Linked DNA regions of Homo sapiens: region 1 is linked to region 2. The links come from fine-mapping of genetic effects on plasma protein levels. A gene starts in region 2. The other region holds a variant in brackets. All regions are shown on one strand. Distances are from middle to middle. Region 1 overlaps QSOX2 (quiescin sulfhydryl oxidase 2). Region 2 holds the start of QSOX2 (quiescin sulfhydryl oxidase 2).

What was found. PIP is the chance, under the fine-mapping model, that this variant and not a neighbour inherited with it causes the effect. Protein levels are from the aptamer-based SomaScan assay of Sun 2018.
Region 1: its variant is fine-mapped to the plasma level of the QSOX2 protein (Sun 2018, PIP 0.95).

Annotation. Positions count from the first base shown.
Region 1 is chr9:136,209,570-136,225,690 of GRCh38, forward strand. It overlaps QSOX2 (quiescin sulfhydryl oxidase 2), which reads right to left. Exons shown (of 12, transcript NM_181701.4): 3 at 15,292-15,340; 4 at 14,438-14,543; 5 at 14,194-14,284; 6 at 12,227-12,372; 7 at 9,461-9,595; 8 at 9,110-9,239; 9 at 7,031-7,153; 10 at 5,585-5,735; 11 at 1,695-1,883. Among named protein-coding and RNA genes, the nearest start is that of LHX3, 13 kb to the left of the region's middle. RefSeq lists enhancers at 1,865-2,641, 6,438-6,941, 15,816-15,865, 16,046-16,121. The variant A/G (reference allele first, on the strand shown) is at 6,909.
Region 2 is chr9:136,238,522-136,254,642 of GRCh38, forward strand. QSOX2 (quiescin sulfhydryl oxidase 2) reads right to left here and starts at 7,291. Exons shown (of 12, transcript NM_181701.4): 1 at 6,955-7,291. The coding sequence starts at 7,282. It overlaps CCDC187 (coiled-coil domain containing 187), which reads right to left. Exons shown (of 26, transcript NM_001378188.1): 26 at 11,452-16,121. The coding sequence ends at 15,073. RefSeq lists enhancers at 692-1,220, 9,326-10,180 and silencers at 1,436-1,565, 6,819-7,228, 7,259-7,528.

The DNA.
Region 1 (16,121 bases), 29 kb before region 2:
CCCAAACCACCCAGCACTCCACTTCCAAAACGGAGCATGCAGCTCTCACCTGGAGGCCTTTCTCCGCACAGTGCTGCCTGTGTGCCCCTCCCCCCACTGCTGCCCCTCTGCCCTTTCCTGAGGGTGCACCTGAGGCCCACTACCTACAGAGCCCCGGCCACCTGGGTGCTATGGACAGTGGGCCTTAGGTGCACCTTCAGGAAAGGGCAGAGGGGCAGCAATGAATTTCCACTGCACTTCAGGTACACTGGCCCTTTCCGGACTACAAATCCCTTCAAGATCTCCAAAACTCGTTTCTGAAGTGACATGTGCTCACTTCCAGGCCCAACAGGCATCCGTCATGCAGAAGCTGCGGCGCACGGCGCCTCCTAGCTCTCGGAGCCCCTGCGACCCGACTTGCTGACACCTGGCCACCCTCACAGAGCTTCCAGAAGTGAATGTAAACACAACCACGTTTGTCTGGGGGACTTGAGACGTGCCTGAAATCAAGAGATGCCCTACTCGGGCCAGTCACTGACTGCGTGCTTATCCGGCCAACCGGCAGCAGGTGCTGCACACGAAGCCAGAGGGGACAAGCACAGACCAGTGGCACCTTGGTCAGAAGCTGCCAGAGCTTCATGTAGGACTGTCAAATAAGGCGCCAGCCCTGGGCAGAAGACCCCAGGCACATCTCCGAGGGGCCTCCCAGGAGCTTGGGTCTCAATGCACAGGCTGGAGGTGGGACTGGAGTGGGAATCTCAGGAGTGACAATCACACTGGGCTGTAAGGCCCCTTTCTGTTGCAGTCTCATGACTGGGGTAGTGGGGGCACATGCGGGCTGGGGCCACAGGTAGCAGCAGGGGCTCCAGGTCCAGGCAGGCCTGGCGAGGGTCCTGGTCCCACTGCCTCAGAGCCGAGGGCTCGGGGAAAGCACAGGGAGCTCTGTGGGCGGCGGCGATGCAGAGGCTGCCAGGGCGGAGAGACGGAGAAGCTGCGCTGACCGAGGGAACAAACCCCGCAGACACACAGCGCCTTCGTCACATGACCCCGGCCCCGGCAGTCAGGCTCAGGGCAAAGAAAAACCAATTTCTTTAGTGCTTCAGCTGTAATATGTTTTTCTAACACAGTGGATTAAATAAAAACCAATAGTTTAGTGGCATTTTCTATTCATCTCTATTAAGATTTCTCAGTGGAATTATTTTTAAGCCTAATTTTAATCTGCCACTGATTTAGGAACAGTTTGAAGTACTTAACTCTGAGAAAATACATGTGCCCTATTTAATTATTTTTTTTTAACAAAACAAAGCACTTTGAGAGGTTTGGTTTACGTTTGGACAACAGATTTCCATACTACTAAAATTCCTCATCAAAAATTAATTACGTTCCAAGCTTTCCAGAGTCAAAAACATCTTCAGAGTCTAACGGGCTACCAGTGGGTACCGATGGGGGAAGAAAGAGCCACACCCATTTCCACGGGGTCGAAGAGCCCCCGGAGTGAGAGAAGCATCTAGAAAGCCGGGGACAGAAGCAGCCTGGGAAAGGCTGCAGCTCTGGCAGCTCTCAGCCACCCAAGTCCTGATCCCGTCAGCACAGTGGGTGGCACGAGGCCGCAAAGCTCAGGGACAAGCCCCACGGCAGCCGTGCCGTCCTTGCTGTCCCAGGACCAGGGCCTCCCTCCGCCCGTGCTGAGCCCCCCATGCCCAGGGGCTTCTCACCTGCCAGGCGGCCGTTCACCATATTATGCTTCTTCCACAGCCAGAGGATGGCTTGGTCTGGGGTTTTCACCGAGTCCATGGATTCTTTAGCCATTTCCTCAAAGTGCTCACCACATTCCTTACACCCAAAGAAGGTGTGAACGTACCTCCTCATTGTCTGCAGCACAGCCTGGGGGTCGTCTTCAAAGCCTGCAGGGGAAGAAACACTGCTGACAACGGCAGGTGCGTGGGCATCACCTGACCCCACGCTTGTCCAGAGAGCCTGGGGGGAAACCGCTCCTGACATGTCGGGAAGCCACCTCATGTCTCCCCAGGGGCCTCAGGCTGTGGGCACAGACCAGAAGCCAGCACCTGCCAAGATGTCCAACACGCCCACGGGTGCTGCAGGCTCTGGAGACACAATGACTGTGGACAGCCCAGAGGGCGGACATGCTCCCCAGATGCCCTGGTGCCAGGAGGATGAGCCACGGACTCGGCCGCCAGGGCCCAAAGGAGCCCTTCCAGGGGCGCCTCCCACCTCCCACCAGTCTTCCAGCCGTCTGTGCCAGAACGCCCGGAGTGCCGCTCTTCCCCGGGATTTGCCAGCTGGGTGCAGTCTCTCTTGCCTTACAAGCAACTCTCAGGGGCTGGTACCAGGGCAATGACTCTGCTCATTCTAAACCTGCAGCTGTCGCGTTTGAAAGCCCTGCAGGACACCAGCCCAAGTGGGGACACGGCCTTAGGAAGTGACTCTTAAGCTGCCGCCAGCCACGGGCGTGAGGATGTGGAGCAGGTGGGCAGGCACAGGGACGGGTGCACCCACAGCCAGAGTTTGTGCCACCGAACGTATTAACAGACATGGACAGGCCGGGGCGCTTCCGCAGATACTGTGAATGAACAACACACATCTCAAGAAAGCAACACCTGCCCACAGGTGGCAGGAAGCAGCCAGCACCGCAACCAAGGGGAACCCCTGAGAAAACCAAGGGGGCAGCATGGGGCGGGGCTCGGCAGTCCCCACTCAGACGACTGACACAGGAGCTTGAACGCACAGATAGGAGACCCATGAGATTAAAACAGATTACATGTCAGCATTAAAAAAAGACATGCTTTCGCGAATGAATCCGTCTTCATCGACAGCAGGCCCTGGGGGAGCTTCCCGCGTGAGTGCAGGCCTGACGCTTGTCGTGGCTCCCTGCAAAACACAGCTGCGTGCAGGCCCTGACCTCAGCGTCCTGGTCGGTCCCAAATCCCGACACTTCTTGTTTATTTCACCCAGAAAGGTGAGAGCAGAGCAGAGCAGACCACCTCCTCCTCAGCCTTGAGCGTGTCCACGGGCAGCTGGGCGGTGTCTCAGATGGGACCGCAGGCGCTGGCCCTGTGACCCGGCCCGTCTGCCCTGCTCTCCTGCCGGGAGGGCTCCACAGACATCTGCCTTGCATCTCCACGTAATCCCCCTCCTCTTCCCCACATCACCGCAGGCGCGGGGCCACCCTAATCTTTAAAGTGGACAAGAACCATAAACCTCTACCTGTGGGAGGATTAGAGGCCTTCACAGGCATTTTACTAGATAGGGCTTAAACATACAGTAAAGAGAAGAAAAACCTTCCAAGACTTAATCCCGTGGTCGCCTCTGACCCAATTCTCTTGGCAGGAGGCTACTCCTGGAGGCTGCTTCCAATATGCTGATGGGCGGAAGGAGCGCTGAGGGTCTTGCTAGCAGTGTGCTTTGCCATCACACTGCTCTTACAATTCCACTACACTAGGGCTGGTCCTAGAAGAGTTTAAAATCAAATACCCCGGTCACTCAACTTCTCCCCTTGGCCAACACTGTACCCACACTGCCTTCAAGGAGCCGTTCCTCATGCCTGCGTGTGCCCGTGTGATCAGAGCAGACGGAAAGGGGGATGGCATGTCAGCTCATCTCCTCACCAGAACTTTCCATGTGTAAACGTGAGGTTTCCTAACTCAGGCTCACGCTTCAGAAGCAGTTTTGTTGTGTTTTTTTTTTTTTTTTTTTTTTGAGACAGTCTTGCTGTTGCCCAGGCTGGAGTGCAGTGGCATGATCTTGGCTCACTGCAACCTCCAGTGCTGGGATTACAGGTGTGAGCCTTGTGCACAGCTCAGAATCAGATTTACATGGTCTGGCTGGGCATTCGGTCGGAATCAGGTTTGCATGGTCTAGCTGGGCATTAGATCAGGCAGTGTGGATGCTGTGATTTCAATTTCTGTTTGGACAGCTCCCAAGGTTTCTCCCCAAAAACATACTACTCTTTTTTTCTGTATGATTATGAAAAGGATTTGAGGTTAAAACCCACCCTCTCCCCCAACCAGACCCCCGAGAAGCAGTAATCCAATATCACCTTGAGGAGGGCCAAAACAGATTTTCAGAAGGCCACTATAGTGCCCCCATCCCGGGACACTCTCCCATTAACAGGTGGAATCTATTTCTCTCACCACGAATTTAGGCTGGGTCAACAGGATGCGGCAGAAGTAATAATATGTGACTCCACACTGAGGTGGACTCTCAGGGGGTCCTGCCTGAACCTGGTGCTACTTGGTGGGGAAGCCACGTTCAGGAGTACGAGGCATTCCAAGGTCCCCTGGACTGACCAGCTGCCACCAGACGAAGGCAGACACACACGAGTGAGCCCAAGCAGCAACTCACAGAAGAACCGCCCAGCCGAGCCCAGCCCAAACTGCTGATCCACAGCATGATAAGCAAACAGTGGTGGCTGCTTTAAGCCCCAGCATTTTAGGTTAGTTTGTTATGTGGCAAAAAATAACCGTAAAGGAATTTGAGAATCTTACTGGAAAGAGCGTTGAACTGTGTGAGTCAAGACTCCACTTCGGCTTTGAAGTAAACATTAATGAACCTGAATTACTGCTTCAACTGGGAAGCACACACACAACAAAATTCAGGGGGGATAAAAAATCCAATACATACTTTAGTGTTCTGTGAAGGACAGAAAATTTGTTTTTATCTATTTCCTAGTAATTGAAAATTATTAAATCCAACTTCGAAGTTTTATAGGTTTTAACCCCTTGTGGTGGGCAGCCTCTGCGACGGTCCCCACAGATCACACCACCTATACTCACGCCTCCTGTAATGTCCTCCCCTTGCGAGTGGCCTGGGCCTGGGGACTGACTAGTAAGCAGAATCTGACAGAGGTGATGGAATATCATCCTCGGATAGGCACCCTCTCACTGGCTTGCTGATGAGGCTTGCTGCCATGATGTGAGCCGCCCGATGGAGAGGCCCTGAGCGTGGCCTGCAGTCAACAGCCAGCATGGAGCTCAGGGCCTTAGGCAAGCCACGTGCAAGGAGGCAGGCCCTGCTCTCTGCCCCATGAGGGTGCTGGGAAGCCACTCTCCCCAGGTGGGCCTTGGGTGACCCCCCAGGCCCAGCTGACACTCCGACTGCAGCCTGACCAATCCTGAAGAAGAGGACCCAGATGAGGCCATGCCCGGCCCTCAGAAACCATGAGCTCATAACCGTGCGTGGTTCCCGTGGTTCTGGCTGCTAAATTTTGGGGTGATTTGTTATACAACAGCTGATAATGAGAACACCTCTCCAAACAGATTTCACTTATTCTGTCTTTTTAAAGCAAAAAACAGGGAGTTTACACTGCAGGGAAACTCCCAGCCAGCACTCTTTCTTCTTTATGGTTTATTTCCTGCACGTTAGCCATGCACATCCTTGCGAGTTCTGACAAGGGGAACTCGTGCCCCCGCAGCCACAGCCCTGGGTGAGCTGACCGTGTGAGAGGAGTCTGAAGTGCCATTCCCCTGCCTCAGTGGCCTGGCGACATGCTGCCTCCCATACAGCAGTACATGCCTTTGCACACACCGGCTGGGTTAACTTGTTAGGCAGACCATCGGCCCCTCTGGCCTGTATGGGCACAGCTTACCTGTGCCAACCAGTGCATCTGGGTGGGTCGAGGCTTCAACAGTCAAAGTGTGGAACAGTTTCCAGAGAGAACACGGGTAACCCCTCAACTCAGATCGGCTTCCTTGACATCCAACCCACTTTATGTGATTAGTAAGGAATATTCCAGAAATCTGAAAAACAAACAAACAAAAAAACCCCAAAGAATAAAAGATAATTGTTGAAATTAAAAACAGTCGACAGCTGCCTTCTTGACTGGGGGGGGTGGATAATGGGGGTGTGGTTTACTGAAGCTGTATCAACTGTACACATAAGATCTGTGCCTCCTACCATATGCAAATTTAAATTCAATAAAACAAAAGAGAGGAAATGGTCTCCTTTACTAAAGGAGCTCTCAAGCCAATCTCTGAAGAGACAGTTCTTCTGTATCTTGATAAACCAGTAATATTAAGCATAAAATGTATCCACCTTTTCTTTTAAATTAGAATTAGTTGTAAGGACAGTATTAAGAGAAAAGGCAACTAACAACAGAAAAAAGCTCAACTGTCAAATAATTCTTGGCCAGAACAAACAAGGTGTGTTCACTTTGAAAAAGCAATAGGGTGGCCATCAGAGTGGGTGACTGCTGGACTGGGAGGGCTGAGAGCCCCAGGCAGATTCCGCTGGGTTTGGTTTCGTGTCTCATCAACCTTTTCCTCCCTAAGGACTCCTGAGCCCAGGACGTGCTCTCGAGGGAGATGTCACACGTCGCAGTCACGTGAGAGTGCTCCCATGACCTCGAGCTCGGAGTAGAGTCAAGGTGGAAGACAGACTCAGGCAAGAAGCCCGGCACCGTCTGCTTCTCAGCTGCAGCCAGCAAATGACAAAGCTGGCAAAATCACGGCACGACAAGTGCACCTTACAGGATTCCCAGAAGATCTGCTGTGTGCACTGACCACGCGGGCGTCGGACAAGCAGCACGCTGGGTTTACTGCCCGCGAGTAAACACTCTGGGGGCCACAGAGAAGCTGCTGATCTGGACTAAGGAGGGAATGGCAGGACGGAGTGCCAGGACCTCTTGGGGTGCTGGTCCCCTGAGCAAAGACTGGCACCTGCTGGCACCTGGTCTTGGGGAAAGCTCTGGAAAGGCTGCCACACTTACTGAATACATCAGTTTTCGTCAGATTGGCTTACTAAAAATTTAAAAAGCCCAACTACTACGTTGCTTGAGAAAACCCCATTTTGTCCAAAGGACAGGTGGTCACAGTGCACTTTTGGTGAGCTGTCCTTAAACTGAAGTCCCAGCATGACGCTGCCAAGGCAGACAGGAGGCCATGGCCATGATGCTGTCGTGGAGACAGTAAGTC[A/G]CTGCTCCCCTTCCTCACAGCGGAGCCCGGGCCCCGAGCAGGGAGATGCACCAGCTAAGGGCAAGGGAAGGAAGGCGAGGGAAGGAGGGTGCAGCGTGGCTGGCGAGGGTTCTGGGGCTCACCCGCATCTTGTTGTTGACCAGGTCAAGCACGGCGTTGTAGGGGATCCTGTCCAGGGGAAGGCTGGCCAGCCACTCCTGCAGCATCTCCAACAGCTTCTTGACTGGCGGCCGTCCAGGGAACAGCTGCATGAGGAAGGAGCCACCTGAGAGCTACAGACCCAAACCCGGGCCCGCCCCCACCGCGGGGGGCACCGCACCTCCAAAGAGAAGCACTCCATCCGCAGAGGGGCTGAACCTAGGATGGGGCCTCTCATAACTCGGGTTTCTCTGATGGGAGGCAGGAAACCCAAGGGGCCATGGGGTGGGCATCTAGCCTGCGCCTCTCCCCAGGACAGCCTGTGCCCACGGCCATGCCTTTCTCCAGCCCGTGCCTGCAGCTCACCCACCTGCGCCCACGGCCTCGCTCCGGCCAGGTGACAGGCAAGGTCACGGTGTGTGACTCATCATGGAGCTGGCGGGGGCTTGCTGATTTATTCTGCCTTCCTCACGAGGAGCTGTGCTGACCCCGCCTGCCCGCCCGCTGGGCTTCCCCTCTGCCGTCACTGACTGTATGAAGGGCGCGCGGCAGTGCACATGCGCCGGCAGCCGGGGCTAACTGCCTATGGGCTTGTGTGGGCCGTGAGGCTGGCCGACATCAACACAGCTTGGGGAGGCGTCTGGCTGAGAAGATCCCAGGGCTCTGTCTTTTTAGGAGAAACTCTGATCAGCTGCTGCACCACAAACTGTGCAAAACATAGGCTGCCGAAAGAGCTCCGAAAACCCGAGCTGAAATCTCACGGGTGGCAATGCCAGACCAGAAACACCAGCCACCAAAAGAGTTCCTCAAACCCGAGCTGAAGCTCACAGGTGGCGATGCCAGACCAGAAACGCCGGCATCTTCAGCTCAGTCCAATATATTTTCTCCCGTGCAGGTTAAAAAGTACCATGATTAATTTACCAGAATCAAATTTATTTTAGACATCCAAGTAAACTTCAGAAAAATATTAAGAATAACTTATTAATACCCTGGCCTCAGGAGTTGCCCAGAGCACAAGTGTAAAAGCTCCAAGCCTAACTAGACTAAGGGGAAGACGGAGAAGCCGGGAGAGGAGAGCAGGTCTGCCTAGCGACAGCTGTGCGACTCCAGCGAATTAGCTGGCCGGCGGCCACCACCACTAAGAGCCACACTGTCCTCCACTAATATGATGGACAGATTAGCAGGACACTTTCTTAAAGGAAATGAGGCCAGCTAGAGATTTCTGAACTCTGGATGGCACCGTGGGGGAAAAAGCTGCCTGGGCAATGTTCATGCATTCATCTGAGGCACCTCCAGTCCTTCAAGATTTCCTGTACTTTTCACAAATCACTTTGTAAGTAAACTCTATCCAAAGTGCTCACTATAAATTATTCTATCATGCATCTTATTTTTGGCAAGATAAATATTTTAAGCCTAAGCCTTCTTGTCATTTAGACAGTAACAAGCAACCGAGCTCATGGAGTTACACCTGGCCACCTCCCTGGCTGGTCCTCTTCAGCCTGACCCTGGGCACGGCCAGGCCTGAGCTCTGTTGGGTGGCATCTCTGCCCGCTCCTGGCGACCCCCTCAGTGGTCTCAGACACCACATCTGTGCTGGTGATGGTGCTGAGCGTGAAGCTCCCAGGACCCCTCCCTGAACCTGGCTGGTGGGGCAGATGCACACCCCACCTGGATCTGCACAGCCCTTGCCTCTCCCTCTCTCTCTCCCCCCAGCCCCCGTGCAGCGCTCCTCTGAGAGCCAGCTGAGGTGTGTGTGGGCCTCCGCTCCCTCCTCCATCTACTCTCCAGGCAGCCAGAGCTGGGCTTTTCCAGCAGGTGCTCGGCTCACACCCCCGCCCCTCTCTACACCCACCGCCCCAGCCCCAGTGCTGGGAACAGCAGTGGACGCAGGAGGCACTCGGGAAATGGGTGGAATGAGTTGGGGCGTGGGCCTGGGCGACAAAGCAAGGTGGAGAGCACCTCAGCGGAGCTGGCGGAGCCCCCGCAGTGTCCGACGCCCCCCAGGGCCCACTCTGTGCAGAGCCAAATTCCCACATGCAGCCCAGACCAGCACCGTCCCAAACCTTGGCCAAGACAGTCACAAAGTCCTTGAGCGTCTTCAGCTCTGCTCCGGCCAGGGACTTGTGGGCTGCCAGCTCCACCCGCAGGAGGTAGTGTAGCCCTGACTCCAGGTCCACCGTGTACAGCTTCGACCTAGGACGGGATATGGCAGCGTCAGGGAATGCCCAACCTTTCCCTCCACAGCAAGTCTCCCTGTCCTGGCTCCTCCCCACGGACTCCCAGGGCCCCTGGGAGGGCTCCTGAGCGGCCCTCACTGGCTGGGGTGGGTTTCTGAGTAAACCCGCCCTGCAAGCACGCAGCCTTCGGTCTACACGCACTGTCTCCGGGGGCTTCAGTTCAAGAGGAACACTTGCTTGTCAAATTCTCTCCAAACCACGATTTCTGAATTTTCTTCTTTGTGTGGCTTTTCAGGCAAGGGAAGCGATTTTTTCCTCACATCCGGCAATGACTTCAAATAAGACGAAAAGAAGGCCCGCAGAGGCTTCACGCTGTGAGAGAGGGGAGGGCAAAGGTGAGAAGAGCCTCCTTTATAAAATCCTAAAGTAGGAGCCGTGGCATTCAGGACAGCTCTGGGCCACCCCTTTCATCCTTTGGGCATTTATTGGGGCATGGGAGTCAGTGGGAACAGCTGACACCCCGCCTGGGCTCCGGCTGCGCTTCCACCTGGGGGATAAGAGGAGACACACCAAATCCACAGATTTACAACCAGTTCCAGTTGTAATAAGTACTATGACTCATTTATGTTTGTGGGGACCTTAAGGCGTTTTGTAAAGCTGGGTTGAGCATCTGCCAAGATGAGCTTTATTCTGACTGCGATTTCCAACACGCCTAAGAGCCTTCACCGACGCGCCCACAATCTGCCAGCCCTGAGTGAGGCATCTGGAAGTCGGGGCCTGGGGTGGACGTCAGCCCCTCCCTGATGTCAGGCCCCTGAGCTCCCTGCGTGCCCACCCTGTGTGGACAGGGTGGAGCTGAGCCCCCTGTGTGCCCACGCTGTGTGGACAGGGTGGAGCTGCCTTCTGAGGACACCCTCAATGCCATTATTGAGCACTTCAGTGTGACGTGGAGCTTGTTTCCAAAGACAGAATGTAGCAGTGCTATTTGCAAAAACATTAAAATATCTATAAAAATATTAACATTATTTGACACTAAGAAGTTGTCTAGATGATACTTTTAACACTAAACAAACATCTGGGAGTGGTTCAGGCCGCTCTGCCAAGTGCAGTGCTGTGCCCCAGGCCTGGAATGGGCCACCTCGTTGGCAGAGCCAGGCCCCCAAGCACTCAGAGCATCTCCCAACAAGCTCAATGGCCTCTGTGGTTACCCTGAATTCCAGCTTTATCTTTTGTATTTTCACTCATTTATCTATTTTTGAGACAGGATCTTTCTCTGTTGCCCAGGCTGGAGTGCAGTGGTGCAATTTCAGCTCACTGCAGCCTCAACCTCCTGGGCTCAAATGATCCTCCCACCTCAGCCCCTTGAGTAGATGTAGCCACAGACATACTCCACCACGCCCGGCTAATGTTTTATTTGTCATAGGCTGGAGTCTCACTATCAACCTGGGCTGGTCTCAGACTCCTGGGCTCAAGTAATCCTCTCATCTCAGCCTCTGAAAGTGCTGGGATTACAGGTGTGAGCCTGGCCTCTTTTTCAAAAGGAAAGAAAAATACTTAAGAAACTGCGGTGTTCTGGGCTTCTGTAAGGCGCCCTCTATGCCCCAGTCGATCTTTGAGGAGGCTGAACTGGAAGCCCCAAGAGACAGGAAACACGTCCTATCTTCTCACTGCTGTGTCCCTGCACCTCGGAGCCCGGCGTGGTGAGTCACCAAGAGCCGCAGAGTCAACCGTGGCTAAACCAGCACATGCTGGAAGCCTGCAGGTGCTGCAACTTCAGGCCAGGGGAAGGGGCCACCCAGTGTAGGGCAGGCTAGCCTCACGCTGTCCTTCTCCTCACGCTGTCCTTCTCCCCAAGGTGAGGAGGAGCGGGGCCCCTCCAGCCTCAGGACGTTACTTAACTTTCTCAACCATTTTTCATTTTCTTTCTTTTTTTTTTGAGATGGAGTCTGACTCTGTCGCCCAGGCTGGAGTGCGGTGACAGGATCTCAGCTCATTGCAGCCTTGACCTTTGAGGCTCAAGTGATCCTCCCACCTCAGCCTCCTGAGTAGCTGGGACTACAGTGGCACACCACCAGACCTGGCTAGTCTTTTTTTTAGTATAGATGGGGTCTTACTATGTTGCCCAGGCTGGTCTGGAACTCCTAGACTCAAATGATTCACCTGTGCCCAGCCTCATTTTTCTCACTGTTCTTTTTCTAACCTGATTCAAGTTGTTTACTTTTTCATTGGGCTTATCCGAGGGGCACACAGGCACTCCACGCAGAGGCAAAGGGCTTATCCTCATGAGGGGCACACAGGCACTCCACACAGAGGCAAAGGGCTTATCCTCATGAGGGGCACACAGGCACTCCACGCAGGGGCGAAGGGCTTATCCTCATGAGGGGCACACGGGCACCCCACGCAGGGGCAAAGGGCTTATCCTCATGAGGGGCACACAGGCACCCCACGCAGGGGCGAAGGGCTTATCCTCATGAGGGGCACACGGGCACCCCACGCAGAGGCAAAGGGCTTGCCAAGGTTCTGCAGTTCTTAGAGAAAGAGCAGAACGTGAGGGGCAGGGCCTGGTGCCCACCCCTACTTCTCATTCTGCAGAGGTGGGCACGTGGGCTTGTCTGCCAGCCCCAGACACAGACCCAAACTGCATCCCAAGAGTCCACCCAGAGCAGGGTTTTAGGAGCATCGGCTGCTCCCAAAGCCCCGGCCCAGCAGCCCTCATGCATGTGCTGGTTTAGCCACGGTTTCCTCTGCGACTCTTGGTAAGTCACCACGCCAGGCTCCTCCTAGGTGCGGGGACACAGCAGTGAGAAAACAGAAATCCACGAAAACACAGCACAGATCAGCAATACCCACGGGCTGAGAGCCAGGGCCCAAATCTGCCCAGGGAAGCGAGGCGGAGGGGCCAGGGCTCCCCCGATCTCACACCAGACTTGCACTGTCTACTCGGAGCCTCTGTCCGGTAACTCCGAGCGGCACGGAGTTCCCAGACCCCACCCGGGCACTCACACGTTAATCAATCCATGCGACCCATTTGGGTAGATCAGGTAACACGAAGGGACTGAAGAAACACCAAGTTTCTCCAGAAATGCTTTGTCCCCGTCCAGTGCTCGGGTCACCACGATGCTTTCATACGGGATCAGGTCTAAGATCACCTGGGGGATGAGAACACAATGACACTTCCACAGGGGCTGGCAGTTTCTCAGAAAACACGACGTGCAGACACATGGCCTTGCAGGGAACCTTTCACAAAAGGGCATGAAGTCTGTCCCCCTGCAGGCAAGACCCTCACTCAAATCTTCACTCTCATTGCACTTTAAGGCAACTGACGGCACACACGCCATGAGCAGAAACCACGGTCTTATTCGGCAATTTTACAAACTCATCAAAGAAAACACTTATCCGCGAATTTGCACTTGACTTTCTAAAACCAGCGCGCCCCCCACAACACTGATACTGGTCAAGTGAGTCCCTGCACACAGCAGCCACACCCCACGGCCTCGCACTCCCGTCCCGCGTGTGGAAGCTTCGTGGCCGGGGCAGCAGGCCTCGTGCTGCCGCTCCTCCCCAGCCACCCTGCTCCTGTCTGGTTCTGCTCAGGCTGAAGGGGCAGCAACAGGGTCTCCGTGGCAGAGAGACCACAGGAGTGGCATCTCAGGATTTTGGAAGAAACCCTGCGTGCGCCACCACCACATCGGGCGTACGTCTTTCCTTCTCTTAACAGAGGAACAAAACCAGCTGCTCCTCAAACCAAGGGCCCTGGCTAAAGGTGTGAACTGGGCGCCCCGCGTGGCCGTGCCTCTCCTGAGCTGGGTGTGTCTGCGAAGAGCTGATCGCTACTCTGGGGCCACACTGGTCTCTGCTCTGGGCCATGCCGTGACTCTGTGCTGAAGAGCACTCCTCCTGCACGAGTGGAGCCTGGCTGCCCCGAACGCACCAGCATGCCAGGCAGGTAGGGGAGCGTGCCCGGCACCAAGACGGTCCCACACCCGCCTCTTCTCAGGGGAACACCTGCCTCTGGTCTGCGTGTGTGGAGGCCCCGCCCGAGACAGCAAGGGCACGAGGGGCCTTGGGACAGGGGTGAGGGGTCTGGGAGAGCCACACACTGCTAGCGGTTCCTCAGCCCTCCACAGAGAATCCTGGCCAACCATCTGGAGGCAGCCTGGCGTCACCATCAAACCTGGAGGGGGCGGTGCTGGGGTGCCAGGAGGGCAGCCAGGGCACAAAGCGAGACGGTCACAGTGCAGGTGTCTGCAGCTGCCTTCCCAAGTGCGTCTCCAAAAGCCCTCGCAGGGGCAAAGCTGTTTCCTACATTCACCGCAAGGCCCCTCACAGTGGACAGAAAAACAGTCGCCTATCAAGTTGCAAGGAGGAGGAGGAGAAGCTCAGGGTGAGTGCTGGGCGAACGCATGTGCAGTGAGGCCTTTCTCTCGTCTCCGGGAAGACTGTCAGCAATAATGACTCTCCGTGAGCTGCCCCTGCACCTGGTCCCTGGACCTTATTTAGACTTGGCCAGAAGCAAGGCTTCAGAACTGTACGTGTGAAATCAAAGTATGACGATAGAAACGACGTTTTACAGAATCTTGGATTTGGCAAAAATGTTGAGAGTTCAGAATACGGCAACGAAAAAAATCTTAGTAATAATGCATACAAAATACAGAATGACCTCAAGGTGAGCTGGGCGTGTCATAAAAATGAGATCTTCTGCAAAGCCCCCTCTTAGTTTCAAACCTAGGGTTAGGCCACCTTCTGAACCCCTCCCACCGCCAAGCTCATTCATCCTAACAGTCTTCTCCAGACACCAGTGACTTTGCTGAGTAACATTAACTAAGCTTCTGATAATGAACAAGACCTAAAGCCACAGACAGGACACGAGATGCCGACACAGTGACCGGCACCTGCAAATCTCATCACAGATCCACCGCCAACCCCAATCACACCACGTGTGACACCTGGAGCCCACGCAGAGGCCGTACCTCCCGTCCAAGGTAGGAGCTGTTGCTTTCAAAGACAATAGCCACGTAATGGCTGCCACGGTTGTCAAGAAGGGAAAGAACATCACTGGGCCTTTCAAGAGGAAAAAAAGAGGCTTTTAGTGCCGTCAACAGCAGCGAGTTGGCCACCACATCCCAGTGGCCACATCACTTAATAGAAACCTATTACGTTTCTTGCACAGTTCAACACGAGTCTAACGGCCGCCTTCTTCATGGAGCTACTCACTGAATGGGGTCTAGGCGCGGGCAGGCAGGGGGCCGGCTTCCTTCCGTGTGGTTCTGCAGGAAGTCAATCATCGTCTGTCTGACTGTTCGCAGCTCTCGGTCAGGTCCTGCCGGAAGCACACCAGGGTCAGAGCTGTGTGTGCGGCTGTCCTCGTGGGGCAGGCATACACCCAGGGACAGCAGCCCCGTCCCAGCCTGGGGCCCAAAGACAGCAGGGTGCAGGTGGCAGCAACATGTGCAATCCCAATGGGTGTGCCCAATGCCACCCACAGGCGTGGTACAGACAGCGCTGGATTCACACAACTGGAGACCACACAGCAATGACACAAGCATGGGTGGGCCACAGGGACAGGCAACAGAGGCAGATGGCAAGACACGGCACTGCGAGGAGCAGGCCAGGCGGCTCCACTGGGTCACTCACAGGCAGAGCCCCCCCAGGGCGCGGCGAGGAGCAGGCCAGGCAGCTCCACCGGGTCCCTCACAGGCAGAGCCCCCCAGGGTGTGGCCTGCGGGGTCTGATCACACTCTGGGCGATGCTCGGCTGGGTGGGATCATTTGTAAAAATTCATCGGGTGGGTACATGTGATCTGTGCACATCTCCAAATATTTTTACAATAAAAAATTTACTCTGAAAAAGTTTTTACTACAATATTTGCCAAGCAAGGCAAAGCACAAAATTAAAATTTCTCTTTGAAACTATTAATATCTGAACTCTTAAGGGAAAGCAGGCAGGAAGGTCAGCAGAGGGAAAGGTGCTGACCCAGGCTGGGAGCTCCCCAGGCTCTGGGACCGTGTGTCTTTAGCAGGTTTATGAGGGGAATCTCAGGGACTAAAATACAATGCTTATGTCCTTACCTTTAAAATTTTCTCCAGTTGTAAACTCCTTTGTAAATGCTTTAAAATACTAAGAGGAAAAACACAGAACAAGTAAGAGGCAGCCTTCCATGGGCATCTGCATGTGTTTAAGCAACAAAACGCCCGTCACCTTAGAGGGAGCTTTACTCAATTTCCTTCGGAAAGTTTTCATAAATTAATGACAAACCACACGCTTCTCCTTGTCTTTGTGCATATTAATGTTTCCTGTCAGATTTACGAGGGGGCTAAGGTTAGCTCCAATCAGCATTCCCATCATTTACATTTTCTGACCCAACAGGGCTAGAAGCAAGACAGTTCAACTGGGCTGGAATCATAAAAGACACCGCTCTCTGGGACTTGGTAGTGAGCCTATGTCTTAATGGTTAGCTGTAGCGTTAGCTGTGACAACACGGAGGATGTGCAGGAGGAGGAGACACCACGCAGTATCTCTGAGTGGATGATTAGGTTCTTATGTTAACATTAAAAACTTTCTTCATCAAAGGGTACGTTAGAGACAGCGACGAGACAAGGTTACATGATGGCGGAGATGAGGTCGGTAAGAAAAGCACTGGCCAGCTAAGAGGGAAACGTGCAGATGACAGGAAGACACTTCACCCATGACACCCACGGCCCACAAAGCCAGATGTGCTGGCACTGCAGCCGCCAGGGAAATGCAAACGAAGCCGCCAGTGCTTCCTGCTGCACTGGTCCCTGGGCGAGCACAAAACTGCCTGACACTGCTGGCCCTGCAGGTCTGTTGTGCACAGACCCGGTTCGCGGCCCAGTGGCTTCTCTCCCAGCCTCAGCTCTCCCCTTGCCCGGGAAGGCGC
Region 2 (16,121 bases):
CTCATTCCCGCCTCGCAATCCAGGCCCTGAGCAAGCCCGGCGGGCAGCCTCCTCCCACCTGGCTGTGCCAACCCTCCCTCTGCCCCTCAGGCCCCAGCTGCCACGCGCGGCCTGGCCTCTCTCACACATCCCACTGTGCTCCGCTGGTTTCTGGTCTTCAGTTCTCCAGAGAGCAGCCAGAGAGTTTTACCTAGAAACCAGGTTTCCCTGCTTAAAATTGTTCTTTGGCATTCTGTTGCTCAGGAAGAAGACAAGCACCGTTTACTGAGCCTGCATCTGCCTGCTGCCGGGCCCTCAGGGACCTCGTGGTTGCCCCCTTGAGCGACCAAGACCCTATCAAAGTCCTTTTAGCCGGGCGTGGTGGTACCTGCCCATCGTCCCAGCTACTTAGGACGCTGAGGCAGGAGGGTCCCTTGAGCCCAGGAGTTCAAAGCCAACCCGGACCACACGAAGAGACCGATCTCTAAAACAAAAGGTCCCCTGGACACTGCAGTCTTGGCTGTCTCGGGTCCTCTGTGCTGGCCATGCCCCTGGCAGGGCCTTCACCTCGTGGCTCCTCTCCCAAGTCGCTGCCCTCTGACGCCTTGCTCTACCACCCAGGGCCACTCCAGTTTCTTTCTAATTGGTCTGTTCATTTTTCTAGGAGTTACAACCTATAGGTAACTCATTTATTTTAATTTGAGACAGGTCTCACTCCGTCACCCAGGCTGGAGTACAGGAGAGTGATCACGGCTCACTGCAGCCTCAACCTCCTGGGCTCGAGTGATCTTCCCATCTCAGCCTCCTAAGTGGCTGGGGCCACAGGAGTGGGGATCTTGCTATGTTGCCCAGGCTGGTCTTGAACTCCTGGGCTCAAGTGATCCTCCCACCTTCCAAAGTACCGGGATTACAGGCGGGAGCCACTGCCCCGGCCACTTCCTTGTTTTATTTGTCTTCCTGTTGACTGTCTGCTACTCCCTCTAAAGCACAGGCTTCCTCAGGTGGGGACCTCCCTGCTTTGTTCCCTGCTGTTCCTCCAACAGATGAATTTCCAGCGCAAATTCATCCCGGAGCGTGAATTCACGCAGAGCCCCTGCACACACTGCAGGGCGAGGGAAGTCCAGCTCCATCCACCAGTCCGCAGGGGCAGCACCTCGACCTGCCTCAGTAGAGCTACGCTCCCAACACCACCACCCCACTCAGGGTCAGTCCTGGTGAAGGGGCATGCGGGCACCCCACGTCGCCTTTGTCTGTCCTTGAAAGAATGCCAGGCCGTGTGCTCAGGGAAGGCCGAGCAGATGAGGGAGAATTTCAGTTACACAGGCCTCCCTCAGCAGCTGAACAGGCGCCAGGAGTACCGGCAAGGACTCGGCAGATGGACGGTATTCATGGCAACACAAAAGATATGGTAGTCCATATTATCAAATCAAATACAAAACACGTAAAAGGCTTAGCTTCAGGGCACTGGCCTCATTCAACGGGTACCCTCCCCTTCTCCTGCTCTGCCCACCTGTCTAGCTCTGAACCTCTAAAGCAGAATGCAAATGGCCTGCTTTCATTGGGCCTCTGGGGTTAGAGCCAGCTGAGAGGCACAGGGTGTGGCAGGGGCGGGGGTGCCCAACCCAGCACAGCCAGGGGGTTCCAAAGGGAGGCAGAAATGAGACCGCAGGCCTATTCTCACTTCTGCTCAAGAGCCTGGCTATTTTAGGACTCCAGTCTTAAAAATACTTGGGAAATAATTAAGCTTCTATATATAGTAGATTAACATTTATTTCAAATGTGCTTGTCAAATAACTCTAATACTGAATCTAACAAGGTTAACTCTTTACTGCTTGTCACGTTCTAATGAAAAAGTCTACAGAAGTCTAATGTATAGTCCAGTATCAAATCGTTCTAGAAAATGATTACAGTAAAGATAAAACAATCTCCCAAGTTGAAAGGCAACTAGGGAGCTGTGTTTAAGGGACAGAGGTCCACTGCAGCCTCTCCTTCCTGAGTCAGGGCCATGCTGGGGTCTCGAACTCCGCATACCAGTCCCTGGAGAAGACCCTCTCTGGGTGGAGCCCCCTCTTGGCTGAGCAAAGGTCTTCTTAGCTAAGCTCCAAGTTCAAGGCACAAGTTTGGAATAACAGGCCTGGGTAGAAATGAAACCCACCTAGCGACCAGGAGAGCCTAACACAAATCACCTAGAAGTTGCCAAGGGCTGGTCTGAGAAAACCCGGGCACACGCTACGGTCGCCTCATCTGGGGACTGAGGGCAGGGCTGGGTCCCATGGACTCTTGATCCCCAGCATTTAACTCAATTCTGGTAAACCAAAACTACACGTTCTTCAGCCTCGAAGGGTGCTCCGAGGTGACAGCAATTCCAATGCTGTTTATCTGTTGGTAGGGAATGACAGTCCCTCAGCCCGTCCTCTGTCAGGGAAGCCCAAGCAGTGCTTATGACCTGGGTCACCCCATGGCACGACGACCGGCATGACACAGCGGAGACGGCTCCCTGGACGTGGCTGTAAGGCCCTCTTAGCAAACCATCCCGTCTTACTTCAACAACAAGTAAGTGGCCTGGGTCTCTCGGTGTAGTCTCAGACGCACCAACCACAGCCACTGGGGAGGCCAGCGGGGAGCCCGGCTGCTCCGATGCACCATCCTTTCTGTAAAATACTCATGTGGTCGCCACAGCGGGGCTACATTAAGCCATTTCTGGGCCCGTAAGGAGACAGGAGGCCTCCACTGCCCAACTCTTCCTCCTTCCACCCTCTCCATCCTCCCGAGTCCAGTGAGCACCTGGCAGCTCTCACGGGCCGTCAGCCCCGCCAAATGCCCGCTGACACCTGCATGTCCCCCTCCCTCTGGCCCTTATTGTTTCTTTTTCCAGTAAACGGACAATGAGCCTGTGGGGAACACCAAGTTCTAATTCATCTCCAAGAAGCCTGCAGCCTAGTCGAGTAGACAAGAAACCAGACCAAGTGGGACAGAGGAGCTGGCAGCAATCACAGAATGCCCTACCCTTCCTTCAAGAGATGTCGGATGTGTCCAGCTCCCAACCCCCACCTGTCCTCTACAAAGACACAGGAATGAACTGCCATGGCTCCAGGTCACCCACACCTGGACACCCATCCCGGCCTGTCACTCAGCTGCGTGACCGTGACTATCCCACGCAACCTCACGTGCTATCACCTGCAACATGAGCGCCCCCGCACTCCTGAGGACAGGTGTGGGAGGACTCGGCCTGTTCCACGCAACCTCATGTGCTATCATCTACAACATAAGCGTTCCCGCCCTCCTGAGGGCAGGTCTAGGAGGACTCAGCCTGTTGTGGGTGGTGGCCTGCCCTGTTTTCTCAGGCTGACCAAGTGAAGGAGATGGGAGGGAACAGGCACCAGGGCCACAGAGGGCGCACGGGGACACAGGCCCTGCCTTTAGGGTGCACCCTCTTGTCCACTCAAGACTGCAGAGGCATTTCGGAGATCTCACCGGTCAGACGGGCCAAAGTGTAGCCCCAGGCCCTGGTGCCTCATCTTCCATCACAAACCCAGCAACCATCACTGCCAGGCAGATCTTCAGGAACCCAACAAGGTTTTGTTCTGCAAAGTACTTAGAAGTGACAGGCTTAAGCCAAATCTCCACAAACACTAGAATGACACTTGGTCACACCAAACAGTACAACTTTTGTTTCTTAAGCCACCTTCTTATAAGAAAAAACATTTATTTTCCCAGCCTTGAAAAAGCCAGTCAAGAGCTAAAGTTCAATCCAAATTTCTGAGGAAAACAAAGGTGCCCTGGCCTGTCCTGCTCCTTCCAGCTGGAGGCTCCTGGGAAGCAGAGCCCACACCTAACCATCCTCTCCAGCAGCCACAGGCATGAAGAACGCAGGGCGTGGCGGGCGCTGGCCAGGGGGACCAGTGGGAGAAGGCGGCTGGACACTCTAGGTAGAAGTGGGGGCCCAAGCCATGGCCTGTGTGCCCCCAGGGGATCAGCAGGATGACCTAAGTCACAGGTGATTGATCAGGGCCACAGGTGACTGATCTGAGTCAGGTCAACAGGGACATAAGAAAACATGAGAATGTTGACAACGGGAATGCCTGCATGCAGCCAGACCCCTGCACTGCCACGGGCAATGGGCGCCCTATCCCTGTGGGACAGCTCCACGCAGGGATGACAGACAGGGAGCCAGGCGCCAAGCAGACAGTTCTGAGCTGGCAGGTCTGGGCTGGGGCTGTGGAGAAGCAGGCATTTCTAACAAGGCCCTAAGTGGCCCTACTTTGAGAGTCCCAGCCTTAGAACAGCTCCGGGGACTCCTCAGTGCCAAGGGCCTTTCATCCCTTTCTACCCGGACTCTACCTCCCACAAGCCTCATGGGCACAGCTTGGCTCTCAGGACTGTAAACCAAAAATAAAATCCTGAGTCCCCTAACTGACTGAATTGAACCCCCTCTTGGCCAAGGAGACCCCAGGGCAACCTGAGGAAAGAAATTCCAGGCCCTGACGGCAAGGGAGGTCAGACACGCCTGGTTACATCACCTCCCTTTGGAGTTTAGGCAGAGCTGACCAGCGTGATGAAACAGAGATCACAGACAGACAGCACAGCCTCAGCAGCAACGACACCAAACTCCAGCCTGACTCGGGTACAGCACCACATGACAAATAGCACACCCTGCAGGAAATCAAAATATTTCACCCCCAAATACATTTATTTCCCTGACATATTTGAAATGGTCCTGCAAAGCTGTCTTTTGTGAGGGAAATTTGCATCTGTAGAGAATCTCCCTCCCTTTCTAGGTCTTTCCTGGATCTAGGAGACATTTAACGAGTCTGACAGCATTCAGGTCTGAAAAGAGACATTTACCCTCTATTCTCCCCAAGGCTGCTGCCTGTGAGGCTTCATCTACTTAACCTTGGCCTCCACAGCCCCTTTAGCTTAACTCAAGCATTTCTCTTTGCTGACTTCAAGTCTTTAGACAAAGCTTAACTCTTTCAATCAATTGCCAGTCAGAATCCACCTATGATCTGTAAACCTACCCCTTCCTATACCTTACATGTACTGATTTATGTCTCTCTGCCTATAACTTCTGTCTCCCTAAAATGTATAAAATCAAATTAACGTGACTGCCTAGAGCACACTTTCTTAGGACCTCTTGACACTGTTCCCCTGGCCATGGCCACTACACTTATTGGCTCAGAACAAACCTCTTTCAGTATTTTATAGTTTGGCTTTTTAGCCAACAGGACCCTCTGCCTGGGCTCCCTGAAGCCCTCTCCCTGCTGCCTGGTCAGGTCACCGCTGTCTTTCACTTTCAGCCATATCCTCCTCCAGTCTCAGTCTCAGGCACAAGCCTGTTCTTCCTGTCGTGACTGGGAAGACAGTCAGCCTCACTAAAGGAGGCTTACTGAGTTGAGTTCATCACACCACTGGGTATGGACGTTACTGTGTGGCTCTCAGGAGGGGCCTTCCTTCTGAGCTCCAGGGACAGTTCTCAAGGCTGCCTATGTGCTGCTTCGGTTACAGAATTTGCAATATTTGAATCTGGTACGATCTTTAGACTTCAGCGACTCAACTGAAAAAAAAAAATCAAAACCAAAACCCACAAAAAAAGTGACCAAGTCCTGCCAGGGCCACCTGCATTTTAATGAACATATCTGTTTCTGCCACTGAATAACACACAAGAACTGAAGGGTTCCCTACGTGATTGAATTACTTGTTTGTTTTCCTAAAAGCAGTGTCTAAAAACCCCACTGAACAGTTTTTCTGTCCATCTCTTCCAGTCTCTGACCTCAGTTCTGAGTCAGGTCAACAGGGACATAAGAAAACATGAGATCAAAGAGGAGGAATCCATTAGAATCAAAAGGCCCCAGCTCTCTAAGAGGAGAATGCATTTTAAAGATAACCATTTACAGTAACATACAAAAGCCCTACTTAGACTTGAAAAAAAGTTTCTTTACAAATCTGTTTGCGATGAGAAAAATACAGCAGGATTGGGTGTAAGGCATAAAAACAAAGGTGCAGGAAGAAAGAGTAGCAATTTGTTACAGATCTTGCCCACTGAAACATGTAATTTGAGGTTAGCACAACACAGGAAGTCCTGCCAAACCTCACTGGGTCGGGAGGACCTCCTACTTCAGTGATTTAAATACCATTTTAAGGGAAGGGTGTTGTGAATGCCCCCTCCCACGCCAACTCTAACCTGTAGAGCAGGCGAGTAACTTCGTGACTGGTTAACAACGTGCGACCAGATGAAAGCACTAAACAATAAAGTGCGGAACACTACCAGCAGTTTGGTGAAAGATTTCTCAAAGGCTGTGCATCTGTGATCAAGGAGCCCACCAATGAAATTCTTTGTAGAGTTAAAAAAATTGCTTTATAGGTTGTTTTGGGGTATTATAGAGAAGTCTCCAGAGTATTTGGACTTCTAAGTTGTGGGTTCACTTTGAGCACCCACTATATGGCCAGCGATCCGAACCAGAAAGTTAATGATGAAGGTTCAAAGGGAATGGGGTGGCTACGAGTGTGGAATAGGAATGAGGGATCCTCAGAGAACAGGAATTCTGGGCACTGGGGATGGGGTGTGTGGACGCTAGGAAACAGGTAGGGTAGGAGGCCTGGAAGGTCAATGAAGTTCTTGGGGCTCAAAACATAGGTATTTTGAGAGCTGGGATACGGGAGGGCTTCCCTATCCCCAAGCGTGCGGTGAGGGCTGCGGGAGAATGGTTTCATTTTGACTTCAGACAGCCCAACTCGTCAGGATCTAACGGGGATTAACTGGGAGAGACATGGGGAGCAGCTGGCTTAGTCTCCCGCCCCTGGAAAGGCCAGGGTTGGTCCGAGTCGGGTGCCTCTGTGGGGCAGGGACTGGCTCTGCGGTAAGGAAAGAAATACGGGGGAGGGGCCCCGGGACCCGCCTTCTGGGGCGGTCGCAAGGGGTCCCGGAAGGCCGCGGTCCCGGGGGTCGGGGGGTCCCCGCGCGGGGGCGCGCCTCACCTCGCACATCCCCAGCCAGGGCCCGCCAAGTGGGCGCGTAGCCGATGCAGTGGCCACACCACGACGAGTAGAACTGCACGAGCCACGCGGCCGAGCTGTTGGCGGTGGCCCCGCGCACGCTGCCGCTGTCCAGCACCCACACGGCGTCCTCGCCCGCGCGGTACAGCCGCGCCGCACCGCCCGCGCCCGGCCCCACCGCCGCCGCCGCTAGCAGCACTAGCAGCCGCGGCAGCCGTGCGGCCCGCGGCGGGGGCGAGCGCCGGGCTCTCAGCGCAGGTCCCGCTCCGATTCCCGGGCTGCGCGCCACCGCCGCCCCGGCCGCCGCCATGTTGGAAGTGCCGCCGGCGCGCTGAACTTTCACCCTGGCAACCACCGTCACGTGCGCCGGCGCGCCCGGCCCCGCCCCCGCGCGCCCAGTTCTGTTCCGCCCCGCCCCCTCACGTCTGACCCCGCCCTCTCTCCCCGCCCCCGCCCCCGCCCATGCGTGGCAGCCCCGCCCCCAAGAGTCTGATGACGCCATCTCCCCGCCCAGGCGCGGCAGGCTCCGCCCAGGCCCCGCCCCACCCCGCCGCGCGTTCCCCAAACCCCTTCCCTGAACAGGGCCAGGTGGCCACATTTAGCAAATGGAAGTGCACGACGCCAGGTTCAACGTGAATTTCAGACAAACAGTGAGTCGGTTTTTCAGCCTAGGTCTGTGCCATGCCTGAAATACAAATTTAACAAGACATTCTTAGACGTAAAAAACTATTCCGGGGTTCTTTTACTTGGCAACCCCACCTGGGGCTTCAGAGGGTCTGCAAGCCAGCCTCGACTTTTTAATATGATATTGGAACGCTTAGAAAATGCAGCAAAACATCCACTCAAAGTCAGATGTGTTGTGTGCTACCTTTTAGGATGTTCCAGTCGAATGCAGCTTCACGGTTTGGAAATGAAATCATATGACTTTTTTGCTTCATTGAACAGGATACCTGATTTTTTTTTTTGTTCCTATTCCTAATTTTTACACATGTCAAGATTTTCTCTGAACTGTGTGACCAAAACAAAACAAGGGAGTGGGCGAGCCTGGGCAACATAGCGAGAGCCCATCTCTTAAAAAAAAGAAAAAAGCCGGGCATGGTGGTGCACACCTGTAGTCCCAGCTACTTGAGGGGCTAAGGTGGAGGATGGCTTGAGCCTGGGAGCTTGAGGCTGCAGTGAGCCGTGACTCTGCCACTGCACTCCAGCCTGGATGACAGAGCGAGACCTTGTCTCAAAATAAATAGATAACTGTATTGTGGGGTTCTGTGTAAGATTTTGTTTAAAAGGTTTTGCTGCTAACAATGGTTAACCCCAGATGAGAGGATTCTCCCCAGAGGGCCCCTGGCCAAGGCGTCTGCTCCCTTTTCCTCACGTCCTGCGTCTCCCTGTTCATGTTTCCTTCCATCACCCACGTTTCCTGGCTTCTGCTCTGTGCCAAGCCCTGGAGACAAATCAAGAACAAAACCGAGCCCCCAGTGTCCCTGGCCTGCATTTGGGCAGACCCCAAACAAACCAACGCGTAAAGCAGCCACCGCGTGCTATGAAAAGCAATGAAGCCGGACACGGAAGCAGGTGCCAGCAGGGCTGCCGTACAGAGGAGGGTGGGGAGGTCTTTGAGAAGGTGACCCGAATGGAGAAGGAGGTGAGGGAGGAGGCACACATGCAAAGGCCCTGGGGCAGAAGGGTGCTGAGCACGCTGGAGGAACAGCAAGGAGCCGGACCTGGTGGGAGCGGAGCAAGCTGGGGGAAGCGTGGGAGGGAAGAAAAGCTGAGAGCCCGAGCGAGACCCAGGGGGCCTCACAACCTGGGCCGCAGACTCAGACTTTGATGCTGAATGGGGGGGTGGCCACGGAAGGATCGGTGCAAGGATGCAGCTCTGCCCTTCTAGTTGCAGAGTAGGAGGGGCAGGAGGGGAAGCAGGGGACCTGGGAGGGGCCGCCGCCTCCTTCCACAAGCTGGAGGGACTCCGGGGAGGGGTGAGAGGCAGTGCTGGTGGAGGGGTCGGCTGAGTCTGGGTGGAGGCAGAGGGTGTCACATTCGCAGAGTTTGGGCCAAAGCAACCAGAGGAATGGGGTTGCTTACGGCTGAGACTAAATCCTGCAGCGGCGAGATGGGAGAGCTATGCTGGGGAGGATGCCATGAGTTTGCTTTGGACCTGTTACATCTGAGCAGCCTTTTCAACCTCTAAGGGAGGTGTCAGGTCAGGGTTTAGAAGTGGGAGTCGAGTCTGGAGCTCAGCGCTTGAGGCTGCTTGAGGTCCCCCGGGGAGGCTGTGGGACAGAGGGGAGGGCCACACACTGAGCCCCAGGCCTCCAGAAGGAGCAGCAGCGAGGTGGCAGGGGAACAAGGAGTGGAGGAAAGGAGGCTGATCTGGCTGAGACAGAGGACGTCATGAGCCCAACTGGAGGGGCACATTCGGAACATCGGGGCAACACCTCACCCCAAACCTGCTCGGTGAAACGGAGCCACCCCTGGGACCAAGCTTAGCCCAGCACTTAGAGGCCACACCCCAAAACAACCAGAGTTTCTCCCATCTAAGGCAGGGCGGGGGAGGGGAAGGGGTTAGGATTGAATCTCGGAGTCTACGTAAGAGCTGTCTGTGCTGAGCCAGATCCTGCCCAAAGCCTGCGTGAAATCTGCCCCCCACCCCACCTGCAGGAGAGGCATCGCACGTCGCTGTGGCAAAGGCCAGGTGACTGCAGGCGCGGTTAGCGTGCGTGCCGCGGAGCGAGAAAACACGCGGCCAGTGGCCATTTTCAGATGCCCTGACAGAGACAGCTCTGGCTTCAAAGAGATCAAAATGCGGGGAGATCACATCTCAGACATGATGAGATAAGGCACTGTGCAGGCTGAGGCAGCAGCATCTTGGACCTAATCTGCTGTGTTGGATCCTGATGAGCCTGATTCCGGGAAGGCCTCCAAGATTTCCAGTTGATCTGTTGTTCCCTGTGTAGAGCAGGTACTTGCCGTAAATCCCACCCTTAGGGCACAAAGCCTTGATGCTGTCTGCTTCAGGTTTCTGCACGTTCCTTCTAAACCAGCCTCCCCTATGGCAGATAAGCCCTGGGCCTGGGGGTGGTGGCGGGATCCCGTCTGTCGGTGCCTCCAGAGACACAGATGTGGCTTCCATTTGTAAGTCCCTACTAAATGTTTCTTCCTGAGAAACTGGACTTGTCAGCCTCTTTCTTCTGCCTCTCAGCCTCCTCCATCTTTGGGGCAGGTTTGCAGAGGCCTACCCATCGTGGAACAGGTATTGATATTCCTGTTTTACAGAGGGAGAAACTGAGGCTCAGAGGGCTGACTACTGTGTGAGGTGAAGGGCACATGGCATGTATGTGACAGAGAGGAGGGCCTCAGGCCCACGTGCCTCCCAGAACCCAGGAGGGCCCACTCTGATGCTTGCATTGGAGACAAAGACAGAACCCAGCTCTGAGCCGCCTCCCTTTCCACATGGGGAGAGCAGAGATGAGGCCCAATGGATTTCAATGGCCCCGGCTCCAGGACTTGCCCTGCTGTCCACGTCTCCCCCTTTAGCAGGAGTTTGGCATGGAGGGCTCAGCTGCTTAACGACCACCACCCATTTTGGGAAAACTTCTGAGGAAAAATTCTGCACACCTGTGCCAGCCCCTGAGCACTGGCGACGTGCCCGGGACAGTGCCTGAGGGAACAATTCTTCATGTCCTCACTAGGACACCATGAGGAGGTGGGTGGCCACCCTCCAGGGACTGTGGACATGGAGGCACGTCTGGGGGCAGGGGCTCCTGCCAGACCCCTAGGGAGAGGTGGAGCAGGGCCCAGGCAGCCTCAGAGCCCGAGCTGGCTCCCAGCACCAGTGTGGTTGGTGCTGTATCGGCTACAGCCTGATGGACATGGTGAGTGGCGGGCAGGAGAAGGGCGGCTGGGAGCCCCGGGGCAGGGCCAGGGCCAGGGGGTGTGTGTGATCCCATCCTCCGCTCCCAGCTCTGATGCTGCCATGCGGGGACAGGGCACCATGGGATGGCTGTGGGACCTGCCAACACTCTTCCAGGACCCCAAAGCTGCCTGGGGAGCTGGGAAAAGGACGGCTTGTGAGCCTGGCTTTGCTGGGCATGAACGGGCCAAGCTCGACCCTGGGGACAGAGAAAATGACCCGCAGGGACCCTGCTCCGCCTGGGCAGTGAGTGAGCTCTCCCAGCGCCCTGGGTGCCTGGAGGCTTTGCTTCCCAGGAAAGTGTGCGGCCGCCACCTTTCATAAAGGGCCCCCGGCCTTCATGCGTGTTTTATGAGGGTGGCCGTGATGGCCACGCAGGGCAGGGAATCAAAGGGACTCGTAAAGTTTGTCTGATGATTTGGGACTCGGAGCACTGCGGACACGTTCATGGGCATTTTATGCAGGAGGGAACCGTTAAGCAGGGAAGCTGAAAGAGACAGATCACGGGAAAATTAAATGTAGGGTTTAACTGAGAAATAATCATTTTCTATGAAAGATAATGACTTCTCTGGAGGCTGGTATCAAGATTTATTGGCCCAAGCGGTGACGACAGATCAGAGCCCAGGCAAATACAGCAGGAGACCTTGAAGGGGAGGAACCTTGGATTACCATCTTGCCCGGTCAATATATCTGAATGCCAAAGCCCTCCGCTCTGTATATGTCCTGTTGGGAGATTAAATGCGTTTACACCTCTGCTGAAGCGGCTTTTTCTCCGGTGCTCAGAGTAACCTGACGGCTCCGGCCCCCTCCAGGGCCGCTGTCCTTGGAAGCCCTGGCCCGGGTTTTCCTTCGTTCCTCACGACCAGCCCCCTTCAAGGGCACCCTACCACCTGCCAGCGACGCGAGGCACCTGCTGGGCTCCCAGGGAAAGTCACGCTGGTTCCAGCTGTGACTGCAGCCGCCACCGCATTGCGCCGCACGTCAGCACCAACCACGTGGCAGCGAGCCTGGGAGCCATCAGATTCGCTGCAAATCTGCGGGGCTTCAGTGGTGGAGATTTATCGTCATGCCAGATGCGTGTGTGTGAGATACATAATTCCTCTCACACGGCCTCATAAATCCAAAAGGGTCAGCAATAAATGGAAAAAAATAAAAAATCACAGACTAATTTGTTCAGAAGACTAGAAGGGGATCAATGAGAAAGCTGTAGCTCAGCTCAAAGTTTGTTCTGAAATTGGGAGCATGGAGCAGGAACACATTCCCCACTGGATCCAAACATCTGCATTCTCAGGTGGGCTGGGCAGGAGCTGGTGCAAAATCAGATGCATGGCCCGAGCTGGGCTTCCTGTGCACATGGTGAATGGGGACCCTGACACAGGCCGGCCATTGTTAACGGCACCTGGGGCTAAGCAGCCGCCCCGGGGCTGGAGAAGGCAGGCTGGGTCCAGCTGCTCCCGGGCGAGGGGTGTCTGGAGAGGGGCTCTTGCCTCACGGCAGGGGGCCCAAAGAGGTTCTAAGGGGCCTGGGGTCTCTCACCAGAGCTATGGGGTAGAGGGCCTTGGCAGCTCCGTGTGTCCTGTGACCTGGCATCTTAGGGCTTTGCCACGCCAGCTTTGTGATGCCTCCCACCAGACTGCATGCATAAAGTCTGGAGTATGCTCCTCTCTGAAGTGGAGGAGGCCTGAGGCCCTGGACAGGAGAAGCCACATCCTGGAAGGATCAGTGCTGGGACACAGATGTCCCTAAGGCCAACACGCTGCTCATCAACTCCGCATTCAAGAAGAGACCCTCAGATTCAAAAGGGTCCCAGAGAAATTACAGGGGTCCCAGTGAATCCTCTGGAAGCAAAGAAAAGTCCATGGCACCAGGAGAAATCAGCTGCCCTGGCCTTCCAGGCACAGCAAGTCCTGAGCATGCTCCAGAAGAGACCTTGGGCCACTGATCCCCAGAGGAAAAGCCCCCGGCCGTGCGGGCTGCGCAGAAATGACCTTGGGCCCTTGAGCCGTGGCTTCCTCTGGTCTGTGCAGCTCAGGTGTGAGACATCCATGCCCAGTCCACCCAGCTGCACGTCATGTGCCGGCAGTTTGGGTGTGGGAGGAGCCTCCAAAGTCAAAGCAGGCAGATGCCCCTGACTTCTAAGCAGGGCTCAGGGGTGTGAGTCAGCACCAGTCAGGCCCACCCCAGCTCTTCTTTTCCCCAGATGTTCTCTCTTCCTCTCTTGGCCTTCGCTGATCCCCATGACCCCCTTCCTGGCATAGGCGCTGCTCCGCCCCGTCCTCGTTCCTGCTCTTGGCGACTCTGACTGTTCTTGCCTCTGGGCTGCAACGCCTTTTCTTGGACGCCTCTTCGTGGCTTTGATGCGAAGAAGCAGGTGTGCAGTCCGGGCCTGGCTTCAGGTGACCGTCCCGCGGAGCCGGCGCCCACCCTGTCCACCGGGGGAAGAGCCGGCCACCCACCCGGTCCACCCCGGGAAGGTCCAGGCGACCGTCCCGCGGAGCCGGCCGCCCACCTGGTCCACCCTGGGAAGAGCCGGCCGCCCACCCAGTCCACCCCGGGAAGGTCCAGGCGACCGTCCCGCGGAGCCGGCCGCCCACCTGGTCCACCCTGGGAAGAGCCGGCCGCCCACCCAGTCCACCCTGGGAAGGTCCAGGCAACCATCCCGCACAGCCGGCCGCCCACCCCGTCCACCAGGGGAAGGTCCAGGCGACCGTCCCGCAGAGCCGGCGCCCACCCTGTCCACCAGGGGAAGAGCCGGCCGCCCACCCGGTCCACCCCGGGAAGAGCCGGCCGCCCACCCGGCCCACCCTGGGAAGAGCCGGCCGCCCACCCAGTCCACCCCGGGAAGGTCCAGGCGACCGTCCTGCGGAGCCGGCCGCCCACCTGGTCCACCCTGGGAAGAGCCGGCCGCCCACCCAGTCCACCCTGGGAAGGTCCAGGCGACCATCCCGCACAGCCGGCCGCCCACCCCGTCCACCAGGGGAAGGTCCAGGCAACCGTCCCGCACAGCCGGCCGCCCACCCTGTCCACCGGGGGAAGGTCCAGGCAACCGTCCCGCACAGCCGGCCGCCCACCCGGTCCACCCTGGGAAGGTCCAGGCGACCATCCTGCACAGCCGGCCGCCCACCCGGTCCACCGGGGAAAGGTCCAGGAGACTGTCCCGCACAGCCGGCCGCCCGGCCGGTCCACCCTGGGAAAGTCCAGGCCTCTAGGTTCTTACTCCCACGTGTGCATGTGTATGCCACACACAGCTCACAATGACATTGTGGACGCCTGTGCACCTCTGTAGTTCCAGAAAACACTCCCTAGGGGCTGCACCTGGGGGCCTGTGTGGAGAGAGCTGCTAAGGAGTCACGCAGGACCCTCCTGGTGAGCCACGTGGAGACCAAGTCCACTGCCTGGTCTCTCTCCACACCTGGGAGATGGGTACAGCGGCCTGAGTCTGTCTCCAGGAGCGGCTTTCTGCCCAGTGAGCCCTCGGGCCTGGGTGGGTCCTCTACCTGGCAGCTCAGGCCTCCCTCAACGTCCTCACCAGCATGCTCAAGGGACCCAGACTTTCCACTGGCGGCCAAGGGCACTTGGCCTGGGAGAGAGGCTGCCGGGGCTGCCAACCAGGGACATGGAGGTGTGGCTGCCTGTGGGGGTGTGGCTGCCTTCCTGTTCTTACCCAGCATTTCTTTGGGGTCTTGGCCCCTGGTGGGGGTCTTGGCCAAGCAGGCTCGGCTGCCCAGGGACCCTGCCGCAGGTGAGGCAGTGTCCAGGAGCTCATCCAGACCCACTAAGAGCTGCCCCGCTACCCACCCCGGCTCTCTGCATGCCCAGAGCTCTGCGCTCCTTCCCAGGGCTCTCCCCGACTGCCCAAGACCTCCTCAAAGGCCACATCAGCCCAGAACCCTGTGCCCAAAACAGGAGCCCAGTCCGCCGATCATCACTTCCACGTCACCAGCTGCCAACAGCCCTGACAGACCTTCCCTGGCCACAGAGGCCACTCTGGATGGAGCTGGGGGCTGCACTGATGGCCCTGGGAGCCCTCCAGGGGCACTGCCTGACCCCTCACACGACGAGTGCCCTGGCCAGCTGACAGGTTCAGGCCACTGGCTGCCTCCGGCCTCATCCCCTGCTGCAGAACTGCATCTACCCAACTGGTCGTCAACGCTTCCACCCGGACCAGCCACCCCTGGGCAGAGCCCCAACTACTGGGTTCCCGCCGACCCCTGGGGCCCAGGAAACAGTCCCTCCGGCAGACTCTCCTCAGACAAGGAGGACAAATCCTGGGTGGTGATGGCGGTGTCCTCCTCAAGGGGCCCCGAGGGCGGGGAAGGGAAGGCATCCGAGCATGGGTTGGTGTCTTCACCATCACTCTGTGCTTGGGGAGTGGGAGGAGGTGGGGGTAGGGGGGCCTCCCTGTGGATGGAGGACGGGAGGTCGGCACTGCCGTAGGACAGCAACTCGTCCACGGGAGACAGGATCTCAGTCAAGACGTCACCGGCAAGTAGGGGACAGGCTTCCTCCAGGACAGTGGGGGCCCCATTCCCACCAGGCCCAGGCGCCCGGCTCTCAGCTACTGGAGGTGCCAGCCTGCCTGGGTCCCCAGGAGGAGCCTGCAGGGTCACCGGGGTCTCGGGCTCTGGCATGAGGTACGGGAGTTTGCTCTTGGTGGATGGGCTCGGGTCAGCATCCCGGGTTCCCTCCTGGTAGCCAGAAGTCTCTCCTCCTTTGCCGAAATCTGCCCCTTCACTCAAAGAGGTCCACGAAGGAAAGACCAGCAGTGAGTCCGAGTCACCGGCAGAAGAGATTTGCAGCGGGAACACCACACCGGCGGCCTCAGGGGGTGCCTGGAGGGCTTCTCCTGTGTCTGACACCCCCATCAGGCTCTCGCTGGTCCCAGAAGCTTCCAGCCCCTCCCCAGGCCATGGGGACGGAAGAGCCACCTGGGGCTCCATGCCGCTTCTGACACCCCCTTTCAGGCTCTCGCTGGTCCCAGAAGCTTCCCGCCCCTCCCCGGACCGTGGGGAGGGAGGAGCCACCTGGGGCTCCACGCCGCTTCCAAGGCCCAGTGAGCCACCTGCAGGCAGGGAGCTCCCCGAGGCTGGCTTGGCCCCGGTACAGGGTTCTGGCAGGTCCTCCTCGCAGTCCTCCTCCCAAACTTTGCTGGAGGCCTCTGACAGCTCTGACCCTGACCTTGGAGAGGGGATGTCTGGGAAAGGCAGTAGCCAGCCTGCCTTTGGGCTTTGCTCCGGCG